Regions from separate parts of the Homo sapiens genome. Here region 1 is reported to be linked to region 2. Evidence: microRNA targets listed by miRTarBase, many of them from high-throughput screens and not tested one by one. Region 2 holds a microRNA gene; the other region holds the end of a gene's coding sequence.
Evidence for each region. Region 2 holds the annotated microRNA hsa-miR-6803-5p (CUGGGGGUGGGGGGCUGGGCGU, at 2,039-2,060, shown strand). A microRNA usually pairs through its seed, bases 2 to 8, with sites in the 3' UTR of a target mRNA and lowers its output. Matches are read on the target gene's strand: a 7mer-m8 pairs with bases 2 to 8, a 7mer-A1 pairs with bases 2 to 7 and ends in A, and an 8mer does both.

Region 1 (3,000 bases), not on the chromosome of region 2:
GGCCTCACCGGCTGTCCTGTGGCCAGGGTGGTCTCTGCGGCCATTCCTGAAGAAGTTGGAAGCAAGGAGATGAAGGTGCTGGGTGTCTCTGTTCCTGTTCCTCCTGGGCAACAGCAGGAGGTCTCCATCCTCTCCCCCACCCCACCCCACCTCCATGCATAGCCCTAGAAACCGGGCACTGGACTCCTTCCACACATCTCAGAGTTATATTATTGTAACAAATCAGTCAAAATTCCATTTTACAGTTAAATAGTACAGAAGACAGTTTACTGTACAAGCAAGTTGTGCGTTAAAAACAAACACCAAGCAAACGATAGTGCAAAGCAGTTTCCACCCAGCTCCATCCTCTCGCCAGCTCTGGGATGGTTTTACATCAGATGAGTGCAGCAGGTGTCACACCTCAGCATGACAATATGTCACAAAAGATTGGTACCCACTACTGACAGGCTCACAGTAACACTATATCAAAACGTCTTCCTTTCCTCGTGCTTCCTACATCAGTGTGTTTGCCTAGTACAACTTTAACGCAGCCTTGTAAATAAGGACCTACTTTTACCAGCCCAGGCTGTCTGTACCCACTTTGGGCCTTACAGACTCAGTACGGCTGCCGTCACTTTTTGTCAGGGGATGGGGGATGGGGTAGGAAGAGCAATTTATTTACTATCCCTGCCTCTCCAGGATCAGGAAGGGTTAGTAATCTGGGATGAGACTACAAAGTGCTGGGCACTGGGAACCCAAAGGTGCCTCCCACGCTGACCTGGGACCAGCTATAACCAGAGAACAGGAGGGAAGAAACTACAAGGACAATGGATTCATAGCTGCTTCCTAAGAAGGCATGGAGAGGCCCCTTGGGTGCAGGGAGTCAGCAACTATTTTGAGGAGATGGAGACTGTTTTTCCAGTGAGGACAGGCCAAGAGAAACCGCAGCAGGAGGGAATGGAATAGGATCACCAGAAGGACTGCCTAACCTGCCAGTGTGTCTCTGGTGTATGGTTCTGGCCGTTGTGACAGGTTGGGTGGGGACAGTGCTCTCACAGAGACAACCAATGAAGAGCATTTTGTAGGGCAGATTTCTGCATCCACAGAGGCCGAGGCAGAAAGTTAAAATACCGCATGCTGCTAGCCTTTATGAGTTCCCTTACGCCTTTTCTAAGCCTTTCTAGGGCCAGAGAACTCTGATGTGAGAATCCATGCAGCCTGGCCCTTGGGCAAGCGCCCACTTTCCCATTTTGCAAAATTCAGGGGCAAGACTTCACCTCGGAACGCAGTGCAGCTGAGCTGCGGCTGGAGAGCCCTTTACAGTGCTTCTGTCCTGCCACGCACAGCCAGTACTCCCCACCTCTCACATCCTGCCCACCTCCGCCCAGCCTCCTGGACAGATGTCCTAGAGCCACAGAGGAGAGATGCCCAGCGTCTCATCAGCGTTTCCCTCGTCCTCCCAGGGGAGCCTGTGGTGCAGGCTGGTGGGATGCTGCCTGATGGGGAGTGTAGCCCCTTGAGAAAGTATTGAGACCCTAATAACCCCACACCCTCAGGAGGCAGCTGGGGGTCCGCGGGGGGGAGAGGGGGCGGGGATGTTGCTTATAATCACAGAGCTATCATAATCACGGAACTATACCTGTAAGAGACCTTGTGTTTGAAAACGTTAGATTAAGCTTCTTTTTCTAAAATCAGTTTTAAAAACTGTTTTGTTTTTTTTTTGTTTTTTTGTTTTTTTTTTTTTTTTGCTCAGGACTATTTGCTTTCAGAGCACAAAACAGGTTACAGACAGGTGTGTGCCAGGAGTCGCAAGATTTGGCTGGATCCTCCCAGGAGGCTTGGGGGATGGGGCACAGCTTGGCTGGACCCAGGGGGGACAGGGACATTGATGTCTGACCCAAAATGATCCCTCACCTCAATGCCTTCTGCTAGGACCTATCTATCTGGCCCTCCTGTTCTCTCCACAAATGGAATTATGAGACCACCTAGGGGAAAGGGGACCTCCTATCCCCCCTCCCCCGCCCTGCCAAGAGAACAGAGAGTGGATGCGTTGAGCTGGTAAAGTGCATGGAGGAGCCGGTCTGTAGGTGCTTTCCTGGGTTTAAGAACCTGATGCCATAGACTCATCTTCTCTGGGGCCTGGGACCCGTGCGGCTGGGGGAAAGCCAACAGTTAGGAACGGAGGGGAAGCTGGGCTGGGGGGACTGGCTTGGATGTGTTCTCAAACCATCTCTGCCAGCAGCGTGCTGGGTCCTGCCCCATCTGTACAATGAGGGGAACCCCGCTCGAGGGTGGTGGGGGTGGGGGACACTTTCCAGTTCTGACTCAAATCTGTGTAAATGCAGAGGGGGCTGGACCCAGGGGATGCAGGGGCTCCAACGAAGGTGCAGGGGTCGGGAGGTTTCCCAGGGCCTGAGGCTTATCCTGTGGGCCAATGCTGCCTCTCTCTGGAAGAGAGATGGCCTCTGTCCCAGGAGACATGGGTCCCATGCAGCACTGGGCATAGCTGGAGACAGTGAGGTCCTTCCGGGGGGGTGGCAGGAGGCTGATTCCCCACAGAAGTATGGGATGAGACGGCCAGGATCTGGGCCGGGGGCAGTATCCCGGGCCGGGGTGGGGGTGGTAACCTATGCCTCTGTACAAGGATGTGGCTGCACAGATGCAGCCAGAGGCTCCCACCAGCTGGGACCACCCTGGGACCGAGACCACCCTGGAGCGCAGGTCCCATTCCCGCCCGGAGCCTCGGAGCCGGCCCATCACTGGTCTTGAAGGTTGTTAGGGTCCCCGCCTCCAGCGGGAGGAGTCCACCAGGGCGGTCAGTAGGGCCGCCACACGGCCTCATCCATGCGGCCTGGCGTGCTCAGGGCCGTGGGTGAGTTGCTGTGGCTGCCGTCGGCCTCCACGCCATCACTCTGGCCGCCCAGGCTGGGGTTCATGAGGTTGCCGGCGGCGACAGAGGCAGCGCTGCTGGTGCAAGAGGCCAGCATGCGGGTAGGTGAGCGGTCGCCCCCACTGCTGCTG
Region 2 (3,151 bases):
GCAGTGAGCCTGCGGGCAGTCCCGGGGCGGGGCCGGGCTCAGCATGAGGCAGAGGGCTGGGACTTGGGGAGAGGCTGTGCCCAAGGTGGGCACTCAGCCCCTGTGGTCAGTGCCTCGTCCAGTGGGGACTCCCTGGGGCGTCTGACGCGGCGCTGGTTGTGTCTATGCCTGCAGGGCGCCATGTTTTGGAAGTTTGACCTGCACACAAGCTCGCACCTGGACACGCTGCTGGAGCGGGAGGACCTGAGCCTGCCCGAGCTGCTGGACGAGGAAGACGTGCTGCAGGAGTGCAAGGTCGTCAACCGCAAGCTGCTGGACTTCCTGCTGCAGCCACCCCACCTGCAAGCAATGGTGGCCTGGGTCACCCAGGAGCCGCCAGATAGCGGTGAGGAGCGGCTGCGCTACAAGTGAGTTCCCCAGCTCCTGGCCAGCCCGTCCCTATCAGCATCACACATACCTTCACTACGCAAGCCTCACAGCTACCCTGAAATGCGTCAGTGTCAGTAAACTCCAGTTTGGGGATGAGGAAGACGAGGCTGGGAGCAGCCAGGCTCCTGCACAAGGCCTCACAGCTCACCGGGTGCAGACCAAGCCTGTGCTCTGGAGGGCAGTGGCACAGTCACGGGTCACGGCAGCCACAAATTCACGGGCCCAGGTGATCCTCCCGCCTCAGTTGCCCGAGTAGCTGGGACCACAGGCATGTGACGACATGCCCGGCTGGTTTTTCTCTTTATTCGCCGCCTTTTATTTTATTTACTTTTTATTAAACTTTTTTTGTATGTTTGTGAAACACTTGTCTGCTATTGAAGACACTTTACTTATTTTTTAATCCAAGCGATGCTGAAAAGACACTTTTTTTTTTTTTTTTGAGACTCACTTTATCACCAGGTTGGAGTGCAGAGGCATGATCGGCTCACTGCAACCTCCTCCTCCCAAGTTCAAGTGATTCTCCTGCCTCACCCTCCTAAGTAGCTGGGACTATAAGCCAGCACGCCCAGCTAATTTTTGTATTTTTGGTAGAGACAGGGTTTCGCCATGTTGCCCAGGCTGGTCTTGAACTTCTGACCTCAAGTGATATGCCTGCCTCAGCCTCCCAAGGGGTACCTCCCCACAGTCCTGGAGCAGACTGTGGCCCCTCAGGGCCTTGAGTGGCACGCTGGTGGGGCAGCTCTTGTCTTGGAGCCGTCAGGCACCGTGTGAAAGTTTGGAGGAGGGAGGCAGGAGGTGAGGTTGGAAGTTGAGCAAGGTTCCAGGAGTCAGCCGGAGCTGGGGCAGCATACGGGGTTGCAAGTGAAGCCGCTGAGAGGCAAAAGGGATGAGTGTTAGCTGCTGGGGGATTGGGAAGCGCAGGAGCTTCAGGACCAGCTTGTCTTGGGGGTGGTAAGGAGCCTAGGATGGGATGGTTGGGTGTTAGCAGGGTGGAGGAGGCCTGGTGTGGGCCCTTGTTTCTGCGTCACCCTGTCCTCTGCCCTTTCCCCTTCCTGGACAGGGGTCTCTGCAGTTCCCAGAAACCCAGTGCCCGGTGCAGAGAAGAGGGTGGAGCCTTGCCGCCCCCTGCCCCCGGCCTCCGACCCGAGCCCCCACCCGCCTGTGCTTGCCTCCCAGGTACCCCAGTGTGGCCTGCGAGATTCTGACCTCAGATGTGCCCCAGATCAATGATGCCCTGGGTGCTGATGAGTCCCTTCTGAACCGGCTCTACGGCTTCCTGCAGAGCACCGGCAGCCTCAACCCACTGCTGGCCAGCTTCTTCAGCAAGGTCATGGGCATCCTCATCAACCGCAAGACAGACCAGGTGCCCTGGCCCCCACCCTGGCGCCACCGTGGGTTGAGGGGTGGTGGCTGGGCCAGGCCCTGTGCATGACGCAGCCCGTGTGCCCCCAGCTCGTGTCCTTTCTTCGGAAGAAGGATGACTTCGTGGACCTGCTGCTGCAGCACATTGGCACCTCGGCCATCATGGACCTCCTGCTGCGCCTGCTCACCTGTGTGGAGCGGCCTCAGCTGAGGCAGGATGTTGTCAATGTGAGCAGGGCCGGCTCCTCTGGGGGTGGGGGGCTGGGCGTGGTGGACAGCGATGCATCCCTCGCCTTCTCACCCTCAGTGGCTCAACGAGGAGAAGATCGTCCAGCGGCTGATTGAGCAGATCCACCCGTCGAAGGATGAGAATGTGAGTGCTGCCGATGCCCCTGCGGATTCCCCTTAGAGTTCCTTCCCCATGCCCACTTCCCCACTTTTAAAAGAGGAATTGGGGCTGGACGCAGTGGCTCACGCCTGTAATTCCAGCACTTTGGGAGGGCGAGGTGGGAGGATTACTTGAGCCCATGAGTTTGAGACCAGCTTGGGCAACATAGTAACACCCCGTCTCTACGTAAAAACTTAGCTGAGTGTGGTGTTGCACACCTGTAGTCCCAGCTACTTGGGAAGCTCAGGTAGGAGGATTGCTTGAGCCGGGAGGTCAAGGCTATAGTGAGTCATGATCACACCACTGCACTCCAGCCTGGGTGACACAGTGAGACCCTGTCTCAAAAAAAAAAAAAGAAAGAAAAGAAATTGGTGAGAAAAGAGAGCATTGAGAACCAGGTGTATCCATGCCCTTTGAGAAAAGGAAAGAAACTTGACTCAAGTGATTCTCCCACTGTGGCCTCCGAAAGTGCTGGAAAGGTTTTTTTCATGACCCAGGAACTTGGCACATAATGCCTTGCAGGGAGGGGCCCTCCTCATCGCCTGTCCAAGCGCTGGCCCCACATCCGTCCCTGCCCACCCTGGCCTGTGCTATTGCTGGGCCTGGCAGCTTTTTCCCTGTCTCCTGCCTGATTGAACCCCTTGCTGTCCTTCTAAGTGTCCGTCCAGCAGCCTTGCTTTCAAGCGCCCTCACATCCTCCCCTTTAGCTCTGGGGGACCCCATGTCCATGTGTTTCTCCAGCTTGGGTCTCCATCTCTGTCCTGGTGCCCAGCACAGGGCCTAGTGTAGAGTGGGTGTTTGTCAAGAGCCTCAGATATCCGAGGCCACTGGGAGCAACATGTCCTTCCCAATGCCAACTTCTGCCTCAGAGGCGCACAGGCTTACAGAGCAGAGATGGCTCTGGGCTCACCCAGGCTGGGGCCTGTCCCTGTGAGGACCCTGAGGCATGGCCCAGGGCCACACTGCCAAGCC

Region 1: miRTarBase lists RUNX3 as a target of hsa-miR-6803-5p. Seed matches in the 3' UTR shown: 7mer-m8 at 2,594-2,600, 7mer-m8 at 2,275-2,281, 7mer-A1 at 1,818-1,824 and 7mer-m8 at 1,544-1,550.

Annotation. Positions count from the first base shown.
Region 1 is chr1:24,899,327-24,902,326 of GRCh38, forward strand. RUNX3 (RUNX family transcription factor 3) reads right to left here. Exons shown (of 5, transcript NM_004350.3): 5 at 185-3,000. The coding sequence ends at 2,796. Among named protein-coding and RNA genes, the nearest start is that of MIR6731, 19 kb to the right of the region's middle. RefSeq lists enhancers at 1,255-1,304, 2,072-2,521, 2,852-2,921.
Region 2 is chr19:55,244,133-55,247,283 of GRCh38, reverse strand. MIR6803 (microRNA 6803) reads left to right here and starts at 2,034; the gene lies at 2,034-2,098. PPP6R1 (protein phosphatase 6 regulatory subunit 1) reads left to right here. Exons shown (of 24, transcript NM_014931.4): 2 at 175-407; 3 at 1,606-1,792; 4 at 1,882-2,019; 5 at 2,099-2,164. The coding sequence starts at 181.